Regions from separate parts of the Homo sapiens genome. Here region 2 is linked to region 1. The links come from fine-mapping of genetic effects on gene expression. A gene starts in region 1. The other region holds a variant in brackets. All regions are shown on one strand. Distances are from middle to middle. Region 1 holds the start of PGAP6 (post-GPI attachment to proteins 6). Region 2 overlaps AXIN1 (axin 1).

What was found. PIP is the estimated chance that this variant, and not a neighbour inherited with it, causes the effect.
Region 2: its variant is fine-mapped to the expression of PGAP6 in thyroid (GTEx, PIP 0.99).

What each region holds. Positions count from the first base shown.
Region 1 is chr16:378,239-393,166 of GRCh38, reverse strand. It overlaps PGAP6 (post-GPI attachment to proteins 6), which reads left to right and starts at 11,189. Exons shown (of 13, transcript NM_021259.3): 1 at 11,189-11,466. The coding sequence starts at 11,346. It overlaps LOC100134368 (a long non-coding RNA gene), which reads right to left and starts at 10,926. Exons shown (of 3, transcript NR_024453.2): 1 at 10,690-10,926; 2 at 9,738-9,877; 3 at 207-1,400. It also overlaps the pseudogene RPL23AP5. RefSeq lists silencers at 2,506-2,683, 10,723-11,072, 11,093-11,322, 11,363-11,512, 11,643-11,762 and an enhancer at 11,197-12,096.
Region 2 is chr16:328,748-343,675 of GRCh38, reverse strand. The region is part of intron 2 of AXIN1 (axin 1); the gene reads left to right. Among named protein-coding and RNA genes, the nearest start is that of AXIN1, 17 kb to the left of the region's middle. RefSeq lists enhancers at 1,660-2,211, 3,494-4,218, 7,153-7,447. The variant G/A (reference allele first, on the strand shown) is at 8,890.

The sequences.
Region 1 (14,928 bases):
CTCTACAAAAAAATAAAAAATTAGCGGGGCGTGTTGGTGTGCGCCTGTATTTCCAGCTACCGGGAAGGCTGAGGTGGGAAGATTGCTTGAGCCCAAGAGGTCCAGGCTGGATTGAGCTGTGATCGCACCACTGCACTCAGCCTGGGCAACAGAATGAGACCCTGTCTCAAAACAAAACAAAAAAGAACTCTCGTAACTCAACAAGAAAAGCAAAACCCAGTTCATTTCCTTGTGTAATGCCTACCCCTTGAGTGTGGACCATGCCTGGTGACTGACTTCTGACACAGCAAAAGAGACGGAGTGTCACTTTCACAATCTGGTCACCAAAGACTGCAGCTGCTGCTGCTCCGCCACCTCCTGGGAGAAGCAGCTCCCCTGTTGTGAGCAGCCCTGTGCGGAGGCCCCCATGACAAGGAACTGATGTTTCTGGCCAAAAGCAACATAGGTGGGCTTAGAAGTGAATCTGCAGGAGGCTGAGGCAGGAGGATTGCTGGAGCCCAGGAGGTTGATGCTGCAGTGAGCAGTGATTGTGCCACTGCACTCCAGGCTGGACAACAGAGCGAGATCCCATCTCTTAAAAAAAAAAAAAAAAAGTGGGCGTGGTGCAGTGGCTCACACCTGTAATCCCAGCACCTAGCTAGGCCAAGGTGGGCAGATCACTTGAGGTCAGGAGTTTGAGACCAGCCCAGCCAACATGATGAAACCCCGTCTCTACCAAAAATACAAAAATTAGCCTGGTGGGATGTGACACGCCTGTAGTCCCAGCTACTCGGGAGGCTGAGGCACTAGAATCGCTTGAACTTGGGAAGCAGAGGGAACAGTGAGCTGAGACTGTTCAACTGCACTCCAGGCTGGGCAACAGGGCGAGACCCGGTCTGGAAAAAAAAACAAGTACATCCCCCCTTAGTCAAGCCTTGGGGTAACCTCAGCGTGGCTGACACCTTGACCACAGCCTGTGAGAGCCTCTGACTCAGAGGCTCCCTGCTAAGCCCCACCCAGCCTCCTGTCCACAGAATCTGGAAGATAATGAACGTGTGCTGCTTACATCATGAAGTTGTGGGGTATTTGTTATGCAGCATAGATGACTAATACAAACAGCAGCCAGGGAGGTGCAGAGTGGCATCACCTCCAACCAGAGCTGGGCTTCAGGGGCTCTGGTGGTCCATGGGGCTGTACTGCCGCTCAGAGGCCAGCGCTGGAACTGCGTCTGGGTCTCACTGCCATCCAAAGCATGGACTGCCTATCTGGTTTCACTCTTGGAGTGGCACCACTCAGAGGGCCCCAGAGCCTGACTGAGGATGAGGTGGAGTGAGGAATCAGGGCTGAGCACGGCCGTGGATTTCTGGAACATTCCTATGGATGTGCTGGATGGTCCTTGTAGAAGGTGCTCAAAAAGATACCTGCAGGGTGGGACAGCGGGGGGATCAGGACAGCTGAATTCTGTCCCAGCCCTACGACTGTTACACCCATGTAGGGAGGGCATTGCCCTACATGGAGGTCTCTCACCTGTTTTATTTTTTTAAATATTTATTTATTTATTTATTTATTTGGACGGAGTCTCGCTCTGTCGCCCAGGCTGGAGTGCAATGGCATGATCTTGGCTTATTGCGAGCTCTGCCTCCTAGGTTCAAATGATTCTCCTGCCTCAGCCTCCCCAGTAGCGGGGACTATCGGCGCCCGCCACCACATCCGGCTAATTTTTTGTATTTTTAGTAGAGACGGGGTTTCACCGTGTTAGCCAGGATGGTCTCAATCTCCTGACCTCGTAATCCGCCTGCCTCAGCCTCCCACAGTGCTGGGATGACAGGCGTGAGCCACCGTGCCCAGCCTGATATCTTATTGTTACAGGTTTCTAACTTAATTCCACTGTGGTCAGAGAACATATTCCCTTTGGGAGGCCAAGGTGGGCGGGTCATGAGGTCAGGAGTTCGAGATCAGCCCGGCCAACCAGTGAAACCCCGTCTCTACTAAAAATACAAAACTTAGCTGGGCATGGTGGCAGGCACCTGTAATCCCAGCTACTCGGGAGGCAGAGGCAGGAGAATCATTTGAACCCGGGAGGCGGAGGTTGCAGCAAGCCAAGATTGAGCCATTGCACTCCAGCCTGGGCAACAAGGGCAAAACTCCGTCTCAAAATAAATAAATAAATAAATTAATTAATGAAAGAGGACATATTCTCTACCACTTAAACTATTTTAAATTAATTGAGACTTGGTTTATGGCCCAGCATGTGATCTGTATTGGAAAACAAATTGTGTGCGCTTGAAAAAAATGTTTATTCTGGCTGAGCGCGGTGGCTCACGCCTGTAATCCCAGCACTTTGGGAGGCCGAGGCAGGTGGATCCCTTGAGGCCAGGAGTTGGAGACCAGTTTGGGCAACATGGCAAAACCCTGTCTCTACAAAAAAAATTTCTTTTTTTGAGACGGAGTCTCGCTCTGTCGCCCAGGCTGGAGTGCAGTGGCGCAATCTCGCCTCATTGCAAGCTCCGCCTCCCAGGTTCACACCATTCTCCTGCCTCAGTCTCTGGAGTAGCTGGGACTACAGGCGCCCGCCACCATGCCCGGCTAATTTTTTCTATTTTTAGTAGAGATGGGGTTTCACCGTGTTAGCCAGGATGGTCTCGATCTCCTGACCTCGTGATCTGCCTGCCTTGGCCTCCCAAAGTGCTGGGATTACAGGCGAGAGCCACCGCGCCCGGCCCAAAAAAATTTTAAAAATTAGGTGGGTGTAGTGGTGCGCGCCTGAACTCCCGTTAGAAACCATGAAGCTGTTGTTGATCCTCCCATCTTGGCCTCCCACAGTGCTGGGATTACAGGCGTGGCCACAGCCCTCGGCCCTGGACCCCATTGTTTCTAATGGGAAGTTATGCCATTCAATTGTTCCCTGGACTATAATGTGTTATCTTTCTCTGTCTGCTTTCAATATTTTCTCTATAAGTTCGTTTTCCAGCAGTTTGACTATGATGTAATTGGCTATGGTTTTCTTTGCATTGATTCTTGTTAAGCTTCACTAAGCTGCTTGAATCTGTAAATGAATGCCTTTCACCGAATTTTAGAATTTGGGGTATTTCTTCACATATTTTTTTTCTGTCTCAGTTTGTCTTCCCTGTCCTCTTGGATTTCCACGTGTACACAGGCTAGACCTCTTTCTTTTTCTTTTCTTTTTTTTTTTTTTGAGACGGAGTCTCACTCTGTCGCCCAGGCTGGAGTGCAGTGGCGGGATCTCAGCTCACTGCAAGCTCCACCTCCCCGGTTCACGCCATTCTCCTGCCTCAGCCTCCCGAGTAGCTGGGACTACAGGTGCCCACCACTGCGCCTTGCTAATTTTTTTTGTATTTTAAGTAGCGACGGGGTTTCACCATGGTCTCGATCTCCTGACCTCAGGTGATCCGCCTGCCTCAGCCTCCCAAAGTGCTGGGATTACAGGCGTGAGCCACTGTGCCCGGCTAGACCTCTTTCACCTCTGCTGAGGTCACTGCAGGGAGATCCAGGAAGAGTGGGCCCCTCCTTGTAGGAGGAGCACAGCCTCAGTCCCAGTCCCATCGGCCCGCCCAGGTACACTTCTGAGGGACACCAAGGGGAGCCTTCTCAGCAGAGAGCAACTCTTGGGCCTCCTACCCCGGCAGCCATCTCTGTCCCTGTCACCTTTGTTCCCACCCCTTGGAAGGGACAAGGACATCTGCTGTGGTTCCGCGCTCCAGTGCTGCTGGACTCACCCCAGGCTCCCTGCAGGCTGAGCGCTGTGCGGTCACTGCCCATGCCCTTCATCTTCCAGCTCACTCGCACCCACACCCAGGACAGGCATTCATTTGCTCAGACAAAATGGGGATAAATAAGAACCACTGCTGGGCGTGCTGGTGCTGGCCTGTAATCACCTGGGAGACTGAGGCAGGGGGATCCTTTGATCCCAGGAGGCCATTGCTGCAGGGAGCCACCATGTTCCCACTACACTCCAGCCTGGGCGACACAGCAAGACCCTGTCTCAATAAAAAAAAAAAAAAAGGAAAAAGAAAAACCCGTCTACTGCCATCCGCTGAACGTAAAACAACAACAAAAAGCTGGACTGAATGTAAAACAACAAAAAACTGAACTGTCATTCCCAGCACTTTGGGAGGCCGAGGCGGGCGGATCACCTGAGGTCAGGAGATCAAGACCATCCTGGCCAACATGATGAAACCCCATCTCTACTAAAAAATACAAAAATTAGCGGGGCATGATGGTGTCCACCTGTAATCCCGGCTACTCAGGAGGCTGAGGCAGGAGAATCGCTTGAACCTGGGAGGCGGAGGTTGCAGTGAGCTGAGATCGCGCCATTGCACTCCAACCTGGGGGACAAGAGTGAGACTTCGTCTCAAAAGAAAAAAAAAAGTGTGGGGAAAAGAAGAGAGATGAGATTGTTACTGTGTCTATGTAGAAAACTCCATTTTGATCTGTACTAAGAAACATTGTTTCTGCTTTGAGATGCTGTTAACCTGTAATTTTAACAGAAACCTGTGCTCACAGAAACATGTGCTGTGTTGAATCAAGGTTTAATAGGTTCAGGGCTGTGCAGGATGTGCCTTGTGAACAATTTGTTTGCAGGCAGTGTGCTTGGTAAAAGTCATCGCCATTCTCCGTTCTCGATTAATCAGGGACACAGTGCACTGCGGAAAGCCGCAGGGACCTCTGCCCAAGAAAGCCTGGGAGTTGTCCAAGGTTTCCCCGCACTGAGACAGCCTGAGATATGGCCTCGTGGGGAGGGAAAGACCTTACCATCCCCCAGCTCCACACCCGTAAAAAGGTCTGTGCTAAGGAGGAGCAGTGAAGGAGAGAGGCCTCTTTGCAGCTGAGATAAGAGGAAGGCTTCTGTCTCCTGCTTGTCCCTGGGAATGGAATGTCTCGGTGTAAAGCCGACCATTCGTTCTATTCTGAGATAGGAGAAAACCGCCCTGTGGCTGGTGGCGAGATATGCTGGCAGCAATACTGCTCTGTTACTCTTCGCTACACTGAAATGTTTATGTAAAGTGAAACATAAATCTGGCCTATGTGCACATCCCGGCACAGTACCTTTCCTAGAACTCACTCATGATACAGATTCCTTTGCTCACATGTTTCCCTGCTGACCTTCTCTCCATCTGTTGGCCTGCTACACTCCCCTCGCTAAGATAGTAAAAATAATGATCAATAAATACTGAGGGAACTCAGAGACCAGCGCCCCTGCAGGTCCTCTCAGGCTGAGTGCGCCGGTCCCCTGGGCCCCCCTTTCCTTCTCTATACTTTGTCTCTGTGTCTTATTTCTTTTCTCAGTCTCTTGTCCCACCTGACGAGAAATACCCACAGGTGTGGAGGAGCAGATCCCCTTCAAAAAGGGTACATACTTCCTACTTTTTTGGATTGGGAAATGACCTTTCCTTTTTTTTTTTTTTTTTTTTTTTAGACGGAGTCTTGCTCTGTCACCCAGGCTGGAGTGCAGTGATGTGATCTTGGCTCACTGCAACCTCCACCTCTCGGGTTCAAGCGATTCTCCTGCCTCAGCCTCCCAAGTAGCTGGGACTACAGGTGCGTGCCAGTTTTTTGTATTTTTAGTAGAGACAGTTTTCACCATATTAGCCAGGCTGGTCTTGAACTCCTGACCTTGTGATCCACCCGCCTCTGCCTCCCAAAGTGTTGGGATTACAGGTGTGAGCCACCGTCCCCAGCCCTTGAATGATTTAATTAGTTAATTTATTTATTTTTGAGATGGGGTCTCGCTCAGTCACCCAGGCTGGAGTGCAGTGGTGCGATCTTGGCTCACTGCAGCCTTGACCTCCTGGGCTCAAGGGATCTTCCTGCCTCAGGCTGTGGAGTAGCTGGGACTACAGACACACATGCCACCATGCTTGGCTACAATTTTTTTTTTTATGGTGACAAGATATATATATATATATATTTAGAATTAGGCAGCTGGACTCAGTTTAGATGATCCCAATTTTGTTGGCAACATCCAACGCATCGTAATCAGGAGCCAGTCGAACACATGCCTTCTTCTCTCCATCAGGCGGAATCAGGGTGGTGACCTCGGCCACATCACCGTCATAGAGCTTCTTCACAGCCTGTTTGATCTGGTGCTTGTTGGCTTTAACATCCACAGTGAACAAAAGCGTGTTGTTTTCTTCTGTCCTCTTCACGGCCGACTCCGTGGTCAGCGGAAACTTGATGACAGCATAGTGGCCAAGCTTGTTTCTCCTGGGGGTGCTCTTCCAAGGATATTCAGGCCGCCTCCGGCGTCGCAGTGTCTTGGGCCGCTGGAAGGTGAGTGACGTGCGGGTCTTCTTTTTTATGTGGCTGTGGACACCTTTCAACGCTGCCTTCTTGGCCTTTAAAGCCTTCGCTTTGGCTTCGGCTTCAGGAGAGGCAGGAGCTTCCTTCTTTGCTTTCAGCGCCATCTTGTGAAAAGGCCAATTTTTTTTTTTTTTTTTTTTGGTTTTTTTTTTTTTGTAGAGACTGGGTTTCACCATGTTGCCCAGGCTGGGAAAATGACCCTTTTTTTATGAAAGAATAATAATGCATGATAGTTGAGCCTAAAAAAGCCCCAAAACTCTGGGGAAACTATTTCTGTCTGTGAAACTCTGATGTCTGGGCACCTGTGGTGTGGTTCATGCTGACAGGTTAGGGCACTGGGTCAGAAAGACAGGGTTACGGTCTGCACTCCTCCTGCCTGACCACAGAGTGAGAGAGACCCATCTCCTGCCCTCAGGAAACTCGGGGCGGAGTGGGAAGACAGGGTCTCCCATGTCTACCAGGTGGCCATGAACAGACAGAGGGAAACTCCTTTCAACCTGCAGAGCCTGGGAGAGTGTCCACAGAGAGAGAGGGGTCCTCACACAGTCTTGCACACAGGAAGCATTTGCAGGAGGTGCACAGGGTGGTTATTTGGAGAAAATTGGATTACGGCTTTTTTTTTTTGCTTTTATTTAACTTTTGATATTTTTATCCAAGACAACTATAATAATGCTTATTGCTGCTGGGCGAAGAGCACACCGACTGTGGAAAGCTGCTCCCACACCCAGCAACCCTCCCCTCCGGCCAGGCTGCAGGCAGCTGGAGTCTACCCTCACCCAGGCTCACTAGAGGGGGACCTGGGGAGGGGGCTTGAGGGTCTTCCTGTTTGTTTGGAAATACGATGCGTCCCTGTTATCCAGCAACTGGATTTTTCACTTTACTGACATTCCTTCTGAAGACACATTTATAGACCCATCTAAAAGTTGCATAAATATTCAGAGTAGGCCGGGCGCGGTGGCTCACGCCTGTAATCCCAGCACTTTGAGAGGCTGAGATGGGCAGATCACGAGGTCAGGAAATCGAGACCATCCTGGCTAACATGGTGAAACCCCGTCTCTACTAAAAATACAAAAAATTAGCCGGGTGTGTTGGCAGGCGCCTGTAGTCCCAGCTACTCGGGAGGCTGAGGCAGGAGAATGGCGTGAACCTGGGAGGCGGAGCTTGCAGTGAGCCAGGATCGCGCCACTGCACTCCAGCCTGGGCGACAGAGCGAGATTCCATCTCAAAAAAAAAAAAAAAAAAAAAAAATCAGAGTAGGCCGGGCGCTGTGGCTCATGCCTGTAATCCCAGCATTTTGGGAGGCCGAGGCGGGCGGATCATGAGGTCAGGAGATCGAGACCATCCTGGCTAACAGGGTGAAATCCCATCTCTACTAAAAACAAAAAAAATTAGCCAGGAATGGTAGCGGGCGCCTGTAGTCCCAGCAACTCGGGAGGCTGAGGCAGGAGAATGGCGTGAACCCGGGAGGTGGAGCTTGCGTGAGCCGAGATCGCATCACTGCACTCCAGCCTGGGCGACAGTGAGGCTCCGTCTCAAAAAAAAAAAAAAAAAAAAAATCAGAGTATATTATAGCATGATTTATTTACCCATTGCCCTCATGGAGCGCCCAGGTTTTTCCAAATACAAGCAGTTCTGCTGCAAACATCCTTGTGTGTCTGTCTCTAGGCCTTAGTGTTCTCCATTACATTTTTTTTTTTTTTGAGATGGAGACTTGCTCTGGTTGCCCAGGCTGGAGTGCAGTGGCCTGATCCCTGCTCACTGCAAGCTCCACCTCCCGGGTTCAAGTGATTCTCCTGCCTCAGCCTCCTGAGTAGCTGGGATTACAGGCTCATGTCACCATGCCTGGCTAATTTTTATATTTTTAGTAGAGACAAAAATAATTCGCCATGTTGGCCAGGCTGATCTTAAACTCCTGACCTCAGGTGACCCGCCCACCTTAGCCTCCCAAAGTGCTGGGATTATAGGCATTAGCCACCGCGTACGGCCTCTCCGTTACTTTTTTTTTTTTTTTGAGATGGAGTCTCGCTCTGTCGCCCAGGCTGGAGTGCAGTGGCGCAATCTTGGCTCACTGCAACCTCCACCTCCTGGGTTCACGCCATTCTCCTGCCTCAGCCTCTGGAGTAGCTGGGACTACAGGCACCTGCCACCACGCCCGGCTAACTTTTTATATTTTTAGTAGAGAAGGGGTTTCACCATGTTAGCCCAGGATGGTCTCGATCTCCTGACCTCGTGATCCGCCGGCCTCAGCCTCCCAAAGTACTGGGATTACAGGCGTGAGACACCGCGCCCGGCCCTCTCCATTACATTTTAATGTTGGCACAATAATTTTCAGAAGGTTGAGGGGGTTCACATGCCTGCCAGCAAAGTGTGAGCATCTGTTGTGGCAAGGGCTGCGTGGCTGTTTTTTGACAAAGTGGCTTGTTTTGTTTCCCTGACCAGTAGCCTGACTGAGCTGTGTTTCCTGTTACAGAAGAGTCTCTCCATTGCCAACACTCTGTGACTTAGCAGACGTCTCTGGACTTCCGTCTGGGGATTCTTACCCACCTTCAAGTTCACCAGCCCTCAGCTGGAGCACTGGAAGTGGGGGCTCTGCCGCTTCTCTCCCTCTCCGGTGGGTGACTTGGGGCACAGGAACCTCAGACTAAGGTGACTCACTCAGGGGAGGGCAGTGGGAGGAGGGGGGCTTGGGCCCAGCCTGGAGCAGGGACTGGGTCTGGAGCAGTCCTGGGTGCTGGTGCTGACCTTGGTTGCTGGGTGCAGTCCGGCACAGCACACTCAAATCACGGCTCAGCAAAATCTGCAATCTGACCTCCGTGCCTTTAAAATGAGAACCCCTGGGAGCCCCCCTTTCCCCTCAGTCGGGGCTGAGGACGGCCCAGCTGGGATTCCCGGGAAACAAAGGGTCTCTTTAAGGCTCAGCCGGGGCTTCCTTCCTCCCCGGCCAACACCCTCCACCTCCGCTGCTCTGGCCTTCAGGGGTCTGGGCTCGTGGAGTCAGCTTCCCCTCCCCCGCTCCGTAAACCCTCACCACCCGCTGCGGCGTTCAAAAGGTACAAACAGGTATGGTCCCTGCGGCCATCCCCATCCCCACCCCGCCTCTCCTCCTCCAAGGTCAACCAGTGTAGCCGGTGCTGGATCATTCCAGACATTCGATGCCTTTGACACACACAAAGGAAACGTGTTTTTCTCCCTTTTCTACACAAATGGTAGAGCTTTGAACACACCGTTCTTCCTGTTCCTTTCTTGCAGCTACTGCTGCACCTGGTGGACCATTTCCAAGCAGCACAGCGCTTCCTGTCTTTCCTGTCTCGGCCACGCTCTGTCTCGTTTAGACCCCGTATGAATGATTTGAATGTCCCACCGGCCAGTGACACGCATGTAGGCGGTGCCACATTGACTCACTGGACGCATGCAGTGTGCCACTTCCGTGAACGTACCTGGAGGGAAAAACGCAGAGGTGGAATTCCCGAGGGAAGGTCATTGCTGCTGTTACTTCAGTGGACAAGTCGGGGGGGTTCCCACGAGGCTCCCACATCCTCTGCCTGCTGCAAGCAGTGTCTGTGGGCCACAGTCTCACCTGTTAGTACAGTTTTTATTTGCCAATGTGTTAGGTGAAAGGAAAAAGAAGTCACTTTAATGGGGTTTTCCTTTAATTTTTTTTTTTTTTAAACTTTTTACCCTCACATCCTGGGAAGGACACTTTAGTGTTTTGTTTTTTGTTTTTGTTTTTGTTTTTGTGTTTTTGTTTTTTGAGACGGAGTCTCGCTCTGTCGCCCAGGCTGGAGTGCGGTGGCGCGATCTCGGCTCACTGCAACCTCCGCTTCCCGGGTTCAGGCGATTCTCTGGCCTCAGCCTCCGGAGTAGCTGGAGTAGTTTTTAATTTGCATTTCTGCGCTGAGGGAGGAGGATCAGCGTATCCCTGGCAGCTGTCCTTCAGTATTTTCTAGGGGAGCGTTTCTGTGATTGATTTAGAGCTGTTTATTACTGCACTGTTACTAGTCTTATTAAGGTGAGCTCTGCGGTGTGAGCTGCAAGCTGTGTCCCCCACCTCCCAGTCGGGGGCTCGTCTTTTGGACTTCGCTTATGCAGTTTGGCTTTGCAGACGCCCCCACCCCCCTCCCACCCACGACGCGGCGGAACTTCTGGACTCTGTGCCACGCTTGGAAAAGCCGACTTGGCCCTAAGACGGAAAAAGCTTCCCCGAGTTTTCTAGGCTTTATCGCTTCCTTTTTTCGGCTCAAATCTTACATGGTGGGAATCCATCCAGGTGCAAAGCGCCGGGAGTTGATGCCACGCACCCGTGTGAACCGCCACCCCGATCGGGTACTACAGTCCCTAAACACAAGCAGCCTTCTCGTCTGTGCATAAAAGCGTGGATCTGACACGCACCTGCAGCGGCTCTGCGGCGTGAAGGCCGGCCCGGGGGTCCCCGTGCTGAGGCGCCTGACTCAGGCCCACGCGCGCCGGGCGGGGCAGGGCAGGGCGCGGGTTCCTCTCGGTCCCAGGCGGAGGTCGGCGCCTCTGCCCCCCGCGGGCTCCCCGAGCCTGCCACGGAGGTCCCGGCCGAGCGGAGCTGGGACTCAGCGAACCGGCGGGGAAGCCCCGCGGAGCCCACGCCTCGGGGAGAATTTCCTGCGTGTTCCGAGCGCGCCCGGCGCGACCTCTCCGTCCTGGGACCCCCGCGATCCCTCCATCCCGCGCCCTCCCTCCAGCGTCCCCCCGGACCGCGCGCGCCCCGGTCCGTCCCCCGCGCGCCCCACGTGACCCCTCCCCCCTACCGGCGCCCCACGTGACCCCTCCCCCCGGCGTCCGCGCCCCCCCCGGTCCCGCCCCCCGACCCCGCCCTCGCCTTCCCGGCTCGGCCTGCGGGGCGGGGCCTGCGGGCGGAAGTGCCCGGGGCGACGGCGGCGGGGACCGGCCGGGCCATGGGCGCCGGGGGCAGAGGCGGAGGCGGCAGAGGCGGAGGCGGCAGAGGCTGCCCGGGCGGCGGCGGGGGCCGGCGGCGCGGGACGCGGGCCGGGTAGCGCCGGGCCGAGCGCGGAGCCATGGGCCGGGCTGGCACCGGGACCGGGGGCGAGGCGGTGGCCGCGGTGGTGGCGGGGCCGCTGCTGCTGCTGCTGCTTGCCCGGCCCCCGCCTGCCTCCGCCGGCTACAGCGGGAAGAGCGGTGAGCGGGAGGCGCGGGCGCCATCGGGGGCGTGGGGCCGGGGCTGCGGGCGGGGCGGGATTGTGACACCCCGGGCGCACCTGTGCGCTCATCTGGCGCCGGCGCGGGGTTGGGGGTCCCCGCCGCGGGTTGGGGGTGCACAGTGGCCCTTTGGGGCGCTTCGTGTCCTAGGGGTCGAGGCGGACGGGACCCCGCGCTTCCTCCTCGGTCCCCCGATCGGGGTTGGGCCACATCGGCCCCTGGAGCGCCCCCTCCCCTCCCTCCTCCTCCCAGAGCGCCCAGGTCCGGCGCGCCCGGCGCGGGGAAGTGGAGGGGCCCAGGGGACTCTGCCCGGGACTCCAGCTGGGAGGAGTGGCTGGGCCGTGAGCTCACCGGCCGGGTCCGGCCTGAGAGAGGGGCAGAGCCGGGAGAAAGTTGTTAGACCCTGTAGCGGGGGCCCGTGGGCGTCATGGCTCCAGCCCTTCCGCAGTGACCCCCAGCCCTGGTACGGCCGCTTCCTGCCGCCGGCCCGGCTTCTGGGAGGAGGGACTCCCAGCTGGCGGAAGAGGGGCTGAGGAAAGGGCGCCCCTCTCCCCTCTTGTTGGGAAACTCGCCGGGCTCCCTTTGCATTTCTGTTCCCTGAGGGTCCCCGTCCCTGACTGAGGTCCAAGGAGGCGGCTGGACCAGGGAGAAGGCGTAGCCCTTCCACGGGGTAGGGACGTGGGTGTGGAGACCGTCAGGCCTTGGCCACCCTGAGATGGTGAGGACTTGCCCCGGCCTCTGTGGCCTGGGACTCTGGAGGGGCCGTGTCCTTTCTGGCCGGCTGGAAGTTCCCACACGTCCCCAGCCACGCGGGTGCCCAGGTGCCCGGCAGCTGATGCGGTGCTGTTCCCCGACTTCCCGGCCCCCAGCCCCTCCCCTCCCCTGCCCCTGAAATAATGCTCCTTTGAGCTCCTGTTTCTTTCGGGGGCTGTGCCTCCTGCTTTCTGAGCTTGGCACAGGTAGAGATGAAAGGCAGTTTTCCCCGAGGACCGTGCCCCGGATTAAATTGCTCCATGGCCAGGCGCGAAGCTCACGCCTGCAATCCCGCACTTTGGGAGGCTGAGGCGGGTGGATCACCTGAGGTCAGGAGTTCGAGACCAGCCTGACCAACATGGAGAAACCCCCTTCTCTACTAAGAATACAAAATTAGCCGGCAGTGGTGGCGCATGCCTGTAATCCCAGCCACTCGGGAGGCTGAGGCAGGAGAATCGCTTGAACCCGGGAGGCAGAGGTTGCGGTGAGCCGAAGTCGCTCCATTGCACTCCAGCCTGGACAACAGAGCGAGACTCCATCTCAAAAAAAAAAAAGAAAGACAGAAAGAAAAAAAAATAACCTGGGTGTGGTAATGTAAGCCTGCGGTTCCAGTTACATAGGAAGCTGAGGCTGCGGTGAGCCGTGTTCATGGCACTGCACTCTAGCCTGGGTGACAGAGTGAGACCCTCAGAAATACCAAAACCTTACTCCGTTGGAAACTGGCAAAGGAAATTCTCCTGTCCCAGAACTCAGGCCTGGTGAGGGGTTCCTGGGAGATGGAACCCCTGTGTGTGGACAGTGGAGAGGCCTGGTGTGCTGGCTCAGCCCCTCACTCCTCCCAGCCTGCCGAGGAGTAAGTGCTCTGTGGCGTTGTGGGTGGTCAGGGTCTCCCATGGGTGCCTGTCCCGGTTTGGAGGACGTGGGTCTGGGGTCTTCACTCAGGTTCCCAGGACAGGGCCAGGGACTTGCATTACCACCTTCCCCACCCAGCCCTGTGTCCGTGGAGGGGCTGTGGGGCAGGCAGGGGGCTGTGTAGCTGGCCCTCCTCACCCTGTGGTCACCTCGGCTCAGAGCACCCCTAACAGCCTGGTATGTGTGGGCAACTTGGGCAGGGAGCTTGGGCTGCAGAGCCCTGGGAGAGGCCTGGAGGGGCTGTGAGCCCTGGGAGTCGGGGACTGGGTGTTAGGACAACCTTGAACAGATCTCTTATCTCTGTGTACCTGCTGAAACTTCACAGCCACCAGCTGGGTTCTAGGTGCCCTCAGGCTGGCGCTCCAGGGCCAGAGGGGCTGAGGGCTTTGCCCCAGCAGCCCAGGGGCTGTGTGTGCTGCAGGTGGCCTCCCCTGCCTGCCCCCGCAGAGGCCGGCTTTCTCCGGGACACCGTGGTCCTGGGGGGCTGTCCTGCTTCAGCTCCCAGCACTTGAGCTTTCTCTGCCCACATTATCAGGCCACAGCCTGGTGGGTGGGACCTGGTGGCCAGCAGACACCTGGAAAGCCTGGAGTGCGTCGTGGGTGGAGCCTGGCCAGCCCCTGCCCAGTCGCCACGCCAGGTTCCCCTGGAGCTTGGCCTGGATTTGCCGACAGGCTGCTATTGGCAGGTGTATCGTTTCTTCTGGTGCCTCTATGGGAGGGTCACGAGGCTGGCAGGAGAGCCTGCTGCTCACCTGTCTCCCTCCTCAGGAGGGGCCTGGGCCTGAGCCAGCCACTCTCCAGTGAGACCTAGGCAGCGCTCCTGAGTGTGTGGGGAGGGGGAGCTGCAGCAGAGGGGAGGGTCCCGCCCCCTGCTGTGTCCACTGTGCTTTTCCTTCTGAAGCCTTTGTCGTTAATTAACCTCGGAGGGAGGGGCCCCCAAAGGGATGTGCCCTCCGCCCTGACCTACCCAGGAGAAGGCTGGGACCCAGGGAGGGAAGGATGCCCAAGGTCGCAAGGGCACGAGGCTGGAGCTGGCACGGGGGGCTGGGGGTGAGAGCCTGAGTCCTCGCCTGGGGCCATGAGCAGGATGTCTCCCACGGGCCCTTCTCCATCCCCGCACCAGGCGTGGGTGCGTTCCCTGAGGACAGTTAGGAGCCTTGCCCGCTTGGAACGCAGAGGGCAGCTGTCCCCTTGTTCTCATGACTGGCCAGGCTTCTGGCCTGGGTCCCTCCCACATGCAGTATCTCCCTCTGGGTAAGGGGAATTTGGGCTCCGGTCTCGCCGTGTCCAAAGTCATCATAGCCCAAGCAGGCAGCCAACCCATCCAGGGATGGAGATGTGGGAGGCTGAGAGGAGGTGGGAGGACCGTGCCTTGATATCCAGGGCATCTGTGATGAGGGGCGGGGGCTCCTTCCTGACACCTGCTGGGTCCTTCGGCTTCGACCTGGGTTGGCCATGGGGAGTGTAGTCTTCTAAGGTTGGAGGGGGTCCGGGTGGCAGTGCGGGTGGGGATGGCAGTCAGAGTGGCGATGGCAGTGCGGGTGGCGATGGCAGTGTGGGTGGCGATGGCAGTGCGGGTGGGGATGGCAGTGTGGGTGGCGATGGCAGTGCGGGTGGCGATGGCAGTCAGGGTGGCGATGGCAGTGCGGGTGGGGATGGCAGTCAGAGTGGCGATGGCAGTGCGGGTGGCGATGGCAGTGCGGGTGGCGATGGCAGTGCGGGTGGCGATGGCAGTGTGGGTGGGGATGGCAGTGCGGGTGGGGATGGCAGTGCGGG
Region 2 (14,928 bases), 49 kb after region 1:
GCTGGAGTGCAGTAGTGCAATCTCAGCTCACTGCAACCTCTGCCTCCTGGGTTCAAGTGAGTCTCCTGCCTCAGCCTCCCGAGTAGCTGGGATTACAAGTGTGAGCTACCATGCCCAGCTAATTTTCTGTATTTTTAGTAGAGATGGGGTTTTACCACGTTGGCCAGTCTGGTCTCGAACTCCTTTCCTCAAGAGATCTGCCCGCCTCAGCCTCCCAAAGTGCTGGGATTCCAGGTGTGAGCCACTGCGCCCGGCCCCGGCTGGTTATTTTTAAGATGGGACTGAAGTTGAGGGCTGGGCTGCAGGAGGAAAATGAGCTCCGTTCTGATTTCCACTGTTGGAACCCCAGTGCCTCCCTCCCAGCCACTCTTCAGTTCTTGGCTGCGAGCAGTAGCTTTGCTGTCTGTCCTTGGTTTGCTGTATTTGTAATAAGGAACCTTTGCTATGAAATTAGTGGGATACATTGGCTTCTCCTGTCTAATTTTGTGTAGCTCTGTCTACACAGTTTGGGTCCTAACTTGACTGCTCTGGGGCTGCTGGTGGCAGAGGACCCTGGGGCTTGGGAGTCGTGTCTGCGGTTGAATCCTCTCTGTGGGAGGTGGCCTGTGGTGCAGCCTTGTGGCTTGAAGATCTCTGATGTTGGAATGGTTGCTTGTCAGCACAGACAGGGCATGAAGTCCAGGCTGCGTTCCTCACATTTAGACCATTCTCTTTGTCCTGCCAGGTGTAGGTGAGGGTGCACTAGGTTGGAAGTCGTGGAAACCCACCCACCTGAGCCCAACCCTGAAGGGCACTGTTGAGGCAGAGCCTCAGGTGTGCCTTAGGGCCTGGCACCTTTGCTTTGTGCCATTCTGACTTTGCCTGCCTGGTGGGCGACTTCGTGGGCTTTGTGTTGGAGGTGGCTGCTGCAGTGACCTTGGGCTCTGGGCTCCCTTGTTTACAGATGCTTCCCGCAGCTCTGACGGATGGGCCCGCTGTTGCTCTGAGGAGGGCACGTGTGCCGCTGTGTCCCGTCTGTCTCAGCACAGTCACGGTGCGTGCGCTGGGGGCTGTGCAGCAGGGTCACTCCTGAAGGAAAGTGGGTTCTCCACCCAGACAGACGGCTGCTCCCCAGTGGGGAGCTGGGGGCAGTCCTCCAAAGGAAGGCTGCGGGTAATGCAAAGGGAAAAGGAGAGTGGGTACTGAACAGGCGGCTGGTGAGCATTGCTACCACAGCAGGGCCTGGAGCTTAGGCCTCACGTGTTAGGGGATGCATATCCTGTGGAGAGCCGGTTAGTCGTCCCGGTGTGTCCGGAATTGGTGGGTTCTTGGTCTCACTGACTTCAAGAATGAAGCCGCGGACCCTTGCCGTGAGTGTTACAGTTCCTAAAGGCGGCCTGTCCGGAGTTTGTTCCTTCTGACGTTCGGAGGTGTTCGGAGTTTCTTCCTTCTGGTGGGTTCGTGGTCTCACTGGCTTCAGGAGTGAAGCTGCAGATCTTCGCGGTGAGTGTTACAGCTCATAAAGGCAGTGTGGACCCAAAGAGTGAGCAGCAGCAAGACTTACTGGAAAGAGAGAAAGAACAAAGCTTCCACACTATGGAAGGGGACCCGAGCGAGTTACCACTGCTGGCTCCCGCAGCCAGCTTTTATTCTCTTATCTGGCCCCACCCACATCCTGCTGATTGGTAGAGTCCAGTGGTCTGTTTTGACAGGGCGCTGATTGGTGCGTTTACAATCCCTGAGCTAGACACAAAGCTTCTCCACATCCTCACCAGATTAGCTAGATACAGAGTGTCCACACAAAGGTTCTCCAAGTCCCCACCAGAGTAGCTAGATACAGAGTGTCGATTGGTGCATTCACAAACCCTGAGCTAGACACAGAGTGCTGATTGGTGTGTTTACAAACCTTGTGCTAGATACAGAGTGCCGATTGGTGTATTTACAGTCCCTGAGCTAGACATAAAGGTTCTCCACGTCCCCACCAGAATCAGGAGCCCAGCTGGCTTCACCCAGTGGATCCCGCACCGGGGTTGCAGGTGGAGCTGCCTGCCAGTCCCGTGCCGTGCGCCCGCACTCCTCAGCCCTTGGGTGGTCAATGGGACCGGGCGCTCGTCGGGGAGACTCGGTCCGCACAGGAGCCCACGGAGGGGGTGGGGGGCTTAGGCATGGCGGGCTGCAGCTCCCGAGCCCTGCCCTGCAGGAAGGCAGTTAAGACCCAGCGAGAAATTGAGCGCAGCTCCGGTGGGCCGGCACTGCCGGGGGACCCAGCACACCCTCCGCAGCCGCTGGCCCGGGTGCTAAGCCCCTCATTGCCCGCGGCCGGCAGGGCTGGCCGGCTGCTCTGAGTGCCGGGCCCACCAAGCCCACGCCCACCCGGGACTCCAGCTGGCCTGCAAGCGCATGCAGCCGCGGTTCCCGCTCGCGCCTCTCCCTCCACACCTCCCCGCAAGCTGAGGGAGCCGGCTCCGGCCTTGGCCAGCCCAGAAAGGGGCTCCCACAGTGCAGTGGTGGGCTGAAGGGCTCCTCAAGTGCCACCAAAGTGAGAGCCCAGGCAGAGGAGGCGCTGAGAGCGAGCGAGGGCTGTGAGGACTGCCAGCACGCTGTCACCTCTCACCGGGGTGGAATTTGCGTGGAGGAACGTGCCAGGAGGGCCAGCCCTCGGGTGCTGACCCCTCTGTCCTGGAGGCTACTTTGCCTGCATCTCTGCCACAGTCGCTCATCCCCTGCGGTGGGGCTGCTGCGGTCCAGCACGGCCACAGGCATCCAGTTCCCCTGTGGGACGCCTGAGTGCGGGTCCTTGTTGGTCCGTGTGTGAGCCGCGTGGTGGTTTCACATACTTGATTTGAGGAAAGTGAAGTGTTCTGCTTAGGTCTTTGTCTCAGCCTAGGAAAGAGCTCCATTCCTGGCCCTTTTCTGTGTTTGTCCCACTCACCCACTGTCATTTTGAGCTCCTGGGCCAAGGTTTCATGGGGTTCCTCCCTGGCTCCCCCGCTCTGCCTCTGTGGGAACACTTTCTGCACCCTCGGGTCTTTGTTCCCATTGTCAGTGGAACTTTGAACAGAGCTGGCTGGTTCACCTCGTCATTTCAGCGGTGTGGATCAGCAGGCAGGTTCTGCTGTTGACTGAGTGTTGGGCGGGAGGCCCAGGGCCTGCACTCCCTGGCTGGCGGGCTCAGGCTCTGCTTCCCTTCAGGGTGGCTTGGCCCACCAGGTGGCCTTCAGGGCTGGCCTTGCATGCCCCTGCCAGGTCCGCTTGGTCAAGCCCGCAGTCTCCTCGCCGCTGGCCCCTTCTGTTGACTGCCCTGACCTTCCTTGATGACTGGGGACAGGGTCTTCCTGGATATTTTCGTGTGTCTTCCCGGGCCAGTCCAGTGATGCACTTGTGGATAGGGCTGGTCAATGTGGCTGTGGCCAGAGAGTGGACAACAGACATGTCCACAGCAGGAGCAACATGGTGGCTTGTCTTGGGCTGCTGGTTCCTGGAGCTGCTCAGAGGACCGGTGGGTCCTTTCGAGGTGGGCAGCCAGCCCTTGCCGTTCAGGTTCCCGCAGGGGTGCGTGAGGAACCGTCGGACCTGCTCATTAGTTTATTGACTGTGTTTCTGGTAATGGCCTAAAAGGTTAAGAGAAGAAATGGTTAAAAAAAAAAAGAAGAAGAAGAAGAAGAAAAAGAAAGGGCCCAAAATGTGTACAGAGTTGTCTGTGGAGGAGTGGTTTTGGGTTTCCATGTCCGTTGGACCTCAGGCGGTGGTGCTGTTGAAGGTGCCCGGCTGCAGAGGGGCTGTGTTGCAAGGGTGAACTCTGCTTCCTGTGCAAAGGGTGTGGCCCAGGGTGGGGTCGCCCCCAGGCTTGTCTTGTTAAGGGGACCTCTGCTGTGGTGCAGAGGGGGCAGAGGTGCTTGTGAGCCATACTGCCCCTTGCGTGGGCTCCCCTTGCCTGGGTGTGGGGGGTTTCTAGTCTCCTTTGGGGTATTTGCTTCCCCTGTTTGAGCAGATCTGAAGAGAATTTTTTTTTTTTTTTAGACAGTCTTGCTCTGTCACACAGGTTGGAGTGCAGTGGCACCATCTCGGCTTACTGCAGCCTCCGCCTCCCAGGTTGAAGCAGTTCTCCTGCCCCAACCTCCCCAGTAGCTGGGATTATAGGCACCTGCCGCCATGCCTGGCTAATTTTTTTTTTTTTTTTTTTTTTGAGATGGAGTCTCGCTCTATCGCCAAGGCTGGAGTGCAGTGGCACAATCTTGGCTCACTGCAAGCTCCACCTCCTGGGTTCAAGCACTTCTCCTGCCTCAGCCTCCTCAGCAGCTGGGACTACAGGCGCGTGTCACCACGCCCGGCTAATTTTTTTTTTTTTTGTATTTTTAGTAGAGACGGGGTTTCACCTTGTTAGCCAGGATGGTCTCGATCTCCTGACCTTGTGATCCGCCTACCTCAGCCTCCCAAAGTGCTGGGATTACAGGTGTGAGCCACCACGCCCGGCCTTTTTTTTTTTTTTTTTTTTTTTTTGAGACCAGGCTGGCTGGTTTTGAACTCCTGACCTCAAGTGATCTGCCCGTCTCGGCCTCCCAAAGTGCAGGGGTTGCAGGTGTGAACCACCACACCCTGCCCAAAGGGAAATTTTTTTTGTTTGTGGATGTCCAAGGAAAACTTTAAAAATGATTCCTGGCCAGGCACGGTGGCTCATGCCTGTAATCCCAGACTCTGCTGGACTCTGCTGGTGCTCTGCTGGACTCTGTCCCCACAGCACCAGCTTGCATCCCACTTTTTTTTTTTTTCCCCAAGATGGAGTTTCGCTCTTGTCACCCAGGCTGGAGTGCAATGGCGCGATCTCAGCTCACTGCAACCTCTGCCTCTCAGGTTCAAGTGATTCTCTAGTCTCAGCCTCCCGAGTAGCTGGGATTACAGGTGCATGCCCCCACTCCTGGCTACTTTATGTATTTTTAGTAGAGACAAGGTTTCGCCATGTTGGCCAGGCTGGTCTCGAAATCTTGACCTTAAGTGGTCCGCCCACCTTGGCCTCCCAAAGTGCTGGAATTATAGGCGTGAGCCACTGTGCCCAGTCCATCTTGTATTTTTATGCACCTGTCAGTGGGCAAGGACTCCAAACATATTTTTTCTCTTCCTTAGCCACGTAAAGCTCCATAGTCTCAGACAGGTTTCAGCAGAGTCCACGAAAGTATCTGTAGTTGCCTGTCAGGCCAAAGGATTCTGGAACCGAGAGGCCCCTTTGCCTGGGCGGACCTCAGTCCTGAGCTGTGTGGGTGGGTTGTGAAAGGGAAGCACTTTGCAGACAGCCAGTGGCAGACGTGCCGATGAGACTGTGTGCCTGGCCCTGGTGCTGGTGCTGACCTGCAGCAGCTGTTTCTGGAGGGCTTGGGGTAAGTGTCCCTGCGGGCCCCTGTGGCCCTTCTTGGAACTGTGCCCTAGCCGTGACTGGCCGCCTGGCACCCCAGCCCATTCTCACATTTTGCGCCAGTGTCACAGATTTGAATTGACGCACACGCTCCGGTTCTGCTCATCCTTGTCAAACGCAGACGTCATTTGTAGCAGCGTACCCTGCAGTTATCGGAGGTGGGGGCCAGGCTGGGCTATGGTGGCTGTCAGGGAGAGAGGGCCGCCTGTTGGCTCTTTCTTGGGCCCCTCCGCTGCCTACTTGTGCGTGTGGAGGGAAGCAGCTTCACCTCAGTTTTTCCCCGTGTCACATCTGTGAGAATAACCACTCAGGGTTCTCTCAGAACCCATTAGCTCCAGAAGGTGTTCGGTCTCTCCACTCCCTGAGAGATGGAGACTGGTCACAGGGCTCTGTGAAAACACACACAGCTCTGCCATACTGCTGTGGCGTCCAGGGGGCCCCCAGAGGCCGCACGCCCGGCTGAGTGCCCATAGGGCCCAGATTCCATGCCCCTTCTCCTCCAGCAAGGACCCTGGGCCCTGTCCGGAGTTGAACGCTGGCTTGTGTGGATTGCAGCCTCGGCCCACGGGCTTCCTTTGTGATCCGTTGAAGCATCTGCTGGCAAATGGGCTCAGCTCTTGGCTCAGCTGGCTAGGTGGCCAGGTGGCCGGGTAGCTGGGCGTCCGGGTGTCCTGGCAGGCGCTGTCCTCACTGTGAGCTGCAGTGGGCTGCTTGGTCCTGTGCCCTGCTCATGGCACTCACCCTCCTGCCTCCTTTGAGGTTGCTCCAGTGCTTTTTTTTTTTTTTTTTTTTGGTTTTGACCCACTCTGGATCTTTACTAGCTCACCTGTAGTCTATGGGATTGGTGTCTGCTCCTAAACAAACATTTAAAATAACCCTAAGGAGTGCTGCTTGTAATATTCCAGCAAATAGGATGACTTGAATGCCCAGTGGCATTCATACAGTTGGATATGTGGGCTTTTAATTTTTTTCTTTGTTTTTCTGTATTTTCCAAATTCCTATAACAGCATGTTTATAATTAGAAAGTATATTATTAAAAGAATAAAAGCTTTAAAATATGCAGCTATTCAAAAGCACATTTTTTCTTTAAAAAGGATACACGTAAATGTGTCTTTTTTTTTTTTTTTTTTTTTTTTTTTTGAGACGGGGTCTTGCTCTGTCACCCAGGCTGGAGTGCAGTGGTGTGATCTCAGCTCACTGCAACCTCTCCCTCCCAGGCTCAAGAGCTCCTCCTCCCTCAGCCTCCCCAGTATCTGGGATTACAGGCGCCTGCCACCATGCCCGGCTAATTTTTTTGTGTTTTTAGTAGAGACGGGGTTTCACCGTGTTAGCCATCATGGTCTCCATCTCCTGACGTTGTGATCCACCAGCCTCGGCCTTCCAAAGTGCTGGGATTACAGGCGTGAGCCACTGTGCCTGGCCCACACCTGGTTAAGTTCTTGTATTTATGTTTTGTTTTTTTTTTTTTTTTTTGAGGCGGAGTCTTGCTCTGTTGCCCAGACTGGAGTGCAGTGGTGCAACCTCAGCTCACTGCAACCTCCGCCTCCTGGGTTCAAATGATTCTCCTGCCTCAGCTTCCTGAGTAGCTGGGATTACAGACATGCGCCACCACACCTGGCTAATTTTTGTATTTTTAGTAGAGATGAGGTTCCACCATATTGGCCAGACTGGTCTTGGACTGACCTCGTGATCTGCCCGCATTGGCCTCCCAAAGTGCTGGGATTACAGGTGTGAGGCACCGCGCCCAGCTGGTGTCTGTTCTTTTAGGGAACCAGCCCTCTTGGGTCAGGGCCCCACGTTTGCGTTCTCATCTAACAATAACACTTCCTTACTTCAAGCACAGCCACGTGATGGTCAGGGCTGACACATATTAATTGGGCGACACGGTTCGGTCCTTAGTGCCTTTTCTGAGTAACGTGCTCACTGCTATCTTGTGTCCACTGGCTCTTTGAGAGCTCTGCTGCTCTCCTGTCTCACCCCTACCCTGAGGTGTTCATGCACCAGGGCATGGTGCTTTCACTTCTGAGCCAAGTGGGTCAATCATTTTCTTTTTTGAGACGGAGTTTTGCTCTTGTATCCCAGGCTGGAGTGCAATGGCACCATCTTGGCTTACTGCAACCTCCGCCTCCTGGGTTCAAGAAATTCTTCTGCCTCGGCCTCCCGAGTAGCTGGGATTACAGGCGTGCATCACCACACCCAGCTAATTTTTGTATTTTTAGCAGAGACCAGGTTTTACCATGTTGGCCAGGCTGGTCTCGAACTCCTGACCTCAAGTGATCCCCCTGCCTTGGCCTCCCAAAGTGCTAGGATTATAGGCGTGAGCCACCACGCCTGGCCATTTTCTTTCCTGTACAATTTTGTGTGTTTGTTTTTGAGTTAATAATGGCCGTTTTTTTCATTTGATTAAATATTTTACTTTCCAACTTAAATCTTCCCATATTCTTCAGCTCAATAGAGTGCTTGTGAATATTCTTCTCCTCACTGTAAAACCTCTTGGATAAAGTATTTTTTCTCTGGAAGACATGTGTCCTGAAGTCTTCCATATTCCCACTCTGGTTGAAACAGTTACTCTTTAGGCATCCTGTGGTACTGGGTGCCTTGGAGCTGGTGTGTGTGGTACTGGCATGCTGTGTAACTGGGCGCAGTGGTACTGGGTGCTGTTATTGGGTGCCATGGTACTGGGTGTTGTGTTATTGGGTGCCATGGTACTGGGTGCTGTGTTATTGGCATGCAGTGGTACTGGGTGCTATGTTATTGGTGTGCCGTGGTACTGGGTGCTGTGTTATTGGCGTGCTGTGGTACTGAGTGCTATGTTATTGGTGTGCTGTGGTACTGGGTGCTGTGTAATTAGTGTGCCGTGGTACTGGGTGCTGTGTAATTAGCGTGCCATGATACTGGGTGCTGCATTATTGGCATGCTGTGGTACTGTGTGCTGTGTTATTAGTGTGTCCTGGTACAGACTAGTGGCCGAGGTGTGCCTGTGTGGAGATCTGAGGGTGACGTAAGTAGAGGCACTGGCGTGAGGGCCCCTCATGCAGTGTCAGGCTTGCACCTTTGCTTGGAAATTCCATTAGCTTTGGAATTTATAGCTTCGTGGTGCAGTGTGGAGTTATGTTGGAGATACCACAAAGATAAAGCATTTCCATGGTGAACAAAAAAGTTTACAAATAAAAGCAGTCCAGGCCGTTTTTATTTTGGCTTTGTTATGTGTCCACTTACTGCTGTGCATTCTATACGCCAATGGGAGTGTTTTGTAGATTCTCATGAGTTGGTTGCGTTTGGTTCATTTGGGTAAAGTGAAACTCCTTTTAAAAGAAGCAGAAAAAAATTAAATATCTCATAAAAATAAAGATTTTCTATTTCTGCCTCAGAGTGTTTCTCTCTAGTGAGTGGTGTGTAATTAGTGTGCCATGGTACTGGGTGCTGTGTAATTAGCGTGTCATGGTACTGGATGGTTTGCTTTTGGCATGCCATGGTGCTGGGTGCTGTGTTATTGGCATGCT[G/A]TGGCACTGGGTGCTGTGATATTAGTGTGTTGTGGTACTAGGTGCTGTGTTATTGGCATGCTGTGGTACTGGGTGCTATGTTATTGGTGTGCTGTGGTATTGGGTGCTGTGTAATTAGCATGCCATGGTACTGGGTGCTGCATTATTGGCGTGCTGTGCTACTGGGTGCTGTGTTATCAGTGTGCCATGGTACTGGGTGCTGTGTAATTAGTGTGCCATGGTACTGGGTGCTGTGTTATTGGCATGCTGTGGTACTGGGTGCTGTGTTATTGGTGTGTTGTGGTACTGGGTGCTGTGTAATTAGCTTGCCGTGGTACTGGGTGCTGCATTATTGGCATGCCGTGGTATTGGGTGCTGTGTAATTAGCATGCCATGGTACTGGGTGCTGGGTTATTGGCATGCTGTGGTACTGGGTGCTGTGTTATTGGTGTGTTGTGGTACTGGGTGCTGTGTAATTAGCGTGCCATGGTACTGGGTGCTGGGTTATTGGCATGCTGTGGTACTGGGTGCTGTGTTATTGGTGTACTGTGGTACTGGGTGCTGTGTAATTAGCGTGCCATGGTACTGGGTGCTGTGTTATTGGCATGCCATGGTACTGGGTGCTGTTATTGGTGTGCCATGGTACTGGGTGCTGTGTTATTGGCATGCCGTGGTACTGGGTGCTGTGTTATTGGCATGCCGTGGTACTGGATGCTGTGTTAGTGGTGTGCCTTGGTACTGGGTGCTGTGTTATGGGCATGCTATGGTACTGGGTGCTGTGGTACTGCGTGCTGTGTTATTGGATGCCATGGTACTGCATGCTGTGTTATTGCTGTGCTGTGGTACTGGGTGCTGTGTTATTGGCATGGTATGGTACTGGGTGCTGTGTTATGGGCATGCTATGGTACCTGGTGCTGTGTTACTGGTGTGCTGTGGTATTGGGTGCCATGGTACTGGGTGTGCTGTGGTACTGGGTGCTGTGTTATTGGCATGCTGTGGTACCTCGTGCTGTGTTACTGTTGTGCTGTGGTACTGGTGTTATGCGCTCATGCCAAAAGAACTTGAAGGAGAGATGAGTTGGGTTTAGAATTTAGGTTGGGTGGCACCCCCCCCATAAATTTAGAGGAATTTGCACCATCACCTTCTGTTTTTCTGAGCTGCCCTGGAAAGACCTGGCTCCATTCTCTTCATACGGTGTGGATGGTGCTTTTTTTCTTCCCTCCAGACATTTTTTGGATGTTTTCTTTATCAACAGTGTTATTTCATAATACTGTGTTTTGCTGGGGGCTTTTTTCTTTCATCGTGCTGAAGAAACTTGTCCTTTAATTCTGGAGTTTAAATGGTATTTGTTTCTTTTCTTTTTTTTTTTTTTCTGAGGCGAGTCTGGAAAAAAAGGCTTGAGCGATCCTCCTGCCTCAGCCTCCAGAGTAGCTGGGACTATAGGCACCAGCACACCCCACTAATTTTTTTTTTTCGAGATGGAATTTCGCTCTTGTTGCCCGGGCTGGGGTGCAGTGGTGCGATCTCGGCTCACTGCATCCGCTGCCTCCCGGGTTCAAGCAATTCTCCTGCCTCAGCCTCCTGAGTAGCTGGGATTACAGGCATGCGCCACCACACCCAGCTAATTTTGTATTTTTAGTAGAGATGGGGTTTCTCCATGTTGGTCAGGCTGGTCTCAAACTCCCGACCTCAGGTGATCCGCCTGCCTCGGCCTCCAAAGTGCTGGGATTACAGGCGTGAGCAATTGCACCCGGCCCACCTCGCTAATATTTTTTTACAGTTTTTTGTAGAGACAAGGTCTCCCAGTGTTGCCCAGGCTGGTCTCAAGCTCCAGGCCTTGAGCACTCCTCCTACTTTGGCCTCTCAGAGAGTTGAAATTGCAGGTGTGAGCCATTGATTGCATCTGGCCAGAAATGTTATTTCTTTGATAATTCCTTCTCTCCATCTTTACCATTTCTCATTTTAGAACTTATTTGAGATCTTATTTAGATTTTGGACCATTTAGAGTGATCCTTTAAATTTTAAATCTTTCATATATTTTGCATTTCTTTTTGTTGTGTTTTCATATCTTTTCAATACATTTTTTTCCTGCCCTTGCTTTCTGAATATACACTCAAAAAATTATACTTTTTTTTTTTTTTTTTGGTTTAGATCAACATTGTTTAGATCAAAATCTTTCTGGAGATGTTAAGATGTTAAGTGTAATTTTTTTTTTGTTTTCTTTTTTTTTTTGAGAAGGAGTCTCGCTCTTTCGCCCAGCCTGGAGTGCAGTGGCACGGTCTCAGCTCACTGCAACCTCCACCTCCCGGGTTCACGCCATTCTCCTGCCTCAGCCTCCCTAGAGCTGGGACTACAGGCGCCCGCCACCACGCCCAGCTAATTTTTTGTATTTTTAGTAGAGATGGGGTTTCACTGTGTTAGCCAGGATGGTCTCCATCTCCTGATCTCGTGATCCGCCCGCCTTGGCCTCCCAAAGTGCTGGGATTACAGGCGTGAGCCACCGCGCCCAGCCTGGCTGCAGGTTTTATATCCTGTTTCTAAAAGTTAAATATGCTTTACTTGTGATTGTGATGTTGCTGCTGCGAGTTCTCTAAACTGTCCTTGGACCGTGGGGCCCTCAGTTGTTGCTGGTCCACCACCATCTGCAGGAGCTGTGAACAGAGGACTGTCAGGGACCATTGTCGCTGCTGAAGGCTGCCGACCTGTGGACTCTCGCACTGCCTGTGTCAGGCGTCAGGCCATCCGCGAGCCCCTAACGAGGTGTGGGAGTGTCATGCCATCCATGTGGAAACTGAGGCCCTGGGAGATTAAGTAACTTCCCATCTGCTGTAGTCAGGGTCGGGCCCTTAGTCACCGTGGTCTCTGGAACCCACAGGCCTGGAAACAGCGCTTTTGAGCAGGGGCTCAGCGAGGCTGGGGGTCAGACTAGTGGCCGAGGTGCGCCTGTGTGGAGATCTGAGGGTGACGTAAGTAGAGGCACTGGCGTGAGGGCCCCTCATGCAGTGTCAGGCTTGCACCTTTGCTTGGAAATTCCATTAGCTTTGGAATTTATAGCTTCGTGGTGCAGTGTGGAGTTATGTTGGAGATACCACAAAGATAAAGCATTTCCATGGTGAACAAAAAAGTTTGCAAATAAAAGCAGTCCAGGCAGTTTTTGTTTTGGCTTTGTTATGCGTCCGCTTACTGCTGTGCATTCTATACGCTGATAGGAGTGTTTGATAGATTCTCATGAGTTGGTTGCGTTTCTTTCATTTGGGTAAAGTGAAACTCCTTTTAAAAGAAGCAGAAAAAAATTAAATATCTCATAAAAATAAAGATTTTCTATTTCTGCCTCAGAGTGTTTCTTTCCAGACAGAGGCTTCTTCCTGCTGCACACTCAGAGTCAAGGAAACTGGACACAGCTGCTTTGGAGTGTTAGGGACGTCCATGAGCTGTCAGCCCAGGGAAGGGCTCCAGGATCCCTGAGAATGTCATAAAGAGGGTAGACCCAGCTTGGAACTTGCAGTTTCTAAATTACTTCAAGGGAACAAACCAGAGTGCTTCATGTACAGAATTTTTTTTTTCATGTACAGAATTTTTACCTTAACTAGATTGATAAGTGTCCAGTGTTTTAATTTTTAATAAGACGTGGCTTTCAGAAGTTGTTATTTTCGTCTTGTAGCTTCAGCACTGAGAGCTGGTCTCCTTCAGGTGAGTTTTATGCAGGATTCAGGGACCATGACTGTAAGCCGGCAACCTGGTTCTGGGTAAGTGATGTATTCAGACTTCTGCTGAGGAGGCTCTGAGGCTGGCGTGAGACTTGCCACCCTGCAGTCTGCAAGGGCTGCAGTCTGGCTGGCCTTTGTAAAGACCCTGGAGCAATAGGGCAGATTGCATCTTGGCAAATGACTCTAAATTGCCTGCAATTTGCTGGGAATTGCCACTTCCAAATGTTTGTTGCAGCATAGATAATCTGAGCTTGTGAAAGGTCATTGGCTGTTCTTTGGAACCAGTAAATTCCTGGGGGCTTCTGCTCCAGGGGTGAAGGCTGGAGTGAGGGTGCTAGTGTCTCCTGGGGAGGAAAGCATAAAACATTTTTTTGTTCTACTTTTTAAATGTTACCACTCTTCATTACATAAAGTGTTTCTCATCAGATCCTTGTGAACCTAAAAATGTGATGTGAAGCCATTTGTGCAGTTCCAGGCTCTGAAGAGACTTTTGTGACATTGAAGAAATGTGGCAGTGAGCAGCACAAAACTGAATTCAATGCACGGTGTTCACGCTGAGCAGAGGAAAGAGGTCGTCAGTTTCATAACTGATTGTGCTGAGCACTAACTAGTGAGTCTCATTAGTGAGTTCTTTGGTGCATTATAATTTTCAAAGTGTTCTTCATGTACATTATTGCATAGTTTTCAGTCAATGCAAAGACAGATTGTTGTCAGAGTTCTATATGAAAGACGTTTGGTAGCGGGCACAGTGGCTCACATCTGTAATCCCAGCACTTTGGGAGGCCAAGGTGGGTGGATTGCTTGAGCCCAGGATTTTGAGACCAACCTGGGCAACATAGGGAGACCCCCATCTCTAGAAAAAAATAGAAAAATTGAGATGAGTGTGGTGGCATGCACCTGTGGTTCCAGCCACTAGGGAGGCTGAGATGGGTGGGTCACCTGAGACCGGGAGGTTGAGGCTGCAGTGAGCTGTGAATGTGCCACTGCTCTCCAGCCTGGTTGACAGAGAGAGACCCTCTCTCAAAAAAAAAAAAGGGCCGGGCACAGTGGGTCATGCCTGTAATCCCAGTACTTTGGAAGGTCGAGGCGGGAGGATCACGAGGTCAGGAGTTTGAGACCAGCCTGACCAACATGGTGAAACCCCGTCTCTACTAAAAATACAAAAATTGGCCAGGCGCGGTGGCTCACGCCTGTTATCCCAGCACTCTGGGAGGCTGAGGCGGGTGGATCACAAGATCAGGAGATTGAGACCATCCTGGCTAATACAGTGAAACCCCGTGTCTACTAAAAAATACAAAAAAAAAAAAAAAATAGCCGGGCAAGGTGGCTGGCACCTGTAGTCCCAGCTACTCGGGAGGCTGAAGCAGGAGAATGGCGTGAACCTGGGAGGCGGAGCTTGCAGTGAGCCAAGACTGCGCCACTGCACTCCAGCACTCTAGCCTGGGCGACATAGCGAGACTCCGTCTCAAAAACAAAAAAAAACAAAAATTAGCCGGGCATGGTGTTGTGCGCCTGTAATCCCATCTACTCGGGAGGCTGAGGCAGGAGAATTGCTTGAGCCCGGGAGGCGGAGGATGCATTGAGCCAAGATCACGCCATTGCACTCCAGCCTGGGCAACAGAGAAAGATGCCATATCCAAAAAAAAGAAAAGAAAGAAAACACAGAACAAAGAAATGGTCTGATATCCCACTGCTCAGAGATACTACTATTCTATCTAGATCGCTCTAGATTTTTCTTAGCACATTTTTTTCATCAAAAATGGGATCCTAATTCATGTTACCCACTCTGTATGTTTTTCAGTATCTTTTTTTTTTTTTTTTTTTTTTTGACAGTCTCGCTCTGTCGCCCAGGCTGGAGTGCAGTGGCGCGATGTCAGCTCACTGCAACCTCTGCCTCCTGGGTTCAAGCGATTCTCCTGCCTCAGCTCTTGAGTAGATGGGATTACAGGTGCACACCACCACGCCTGGCTAATTTCTATATTTTTAGTAGAGACAGGGTTTCACCATGTCGGTCAGGCTGGTCTCGAACTCCTGACGTCGTGATCCTCCCTCCTGCCTTGGCCTTCCAAAGTGCTGGGATTACAGGCGTGAGCTACCGTGCCCAGCCCACTATCATTTTAAATAGTTACTGGTGTGAGCAGCGTGGCAGCACCCAGGGGTTGTGCAGAGAGGACAGGGTGCCTGGCAGACCCTCCCTGCCCGCCATCTCTCCTGGAAAGCGGAGCAGCAGCTTCAGTCTGTGGGGGACTGTGCAGAGAGGACAGGGTGCCCGGCCACACTCTCCCTGCCTGCCATCTCTCCTGTCTGTAGCACCCGTTGCCATGTGCCTTTCAAAATCATGAGTGTTTGGGTT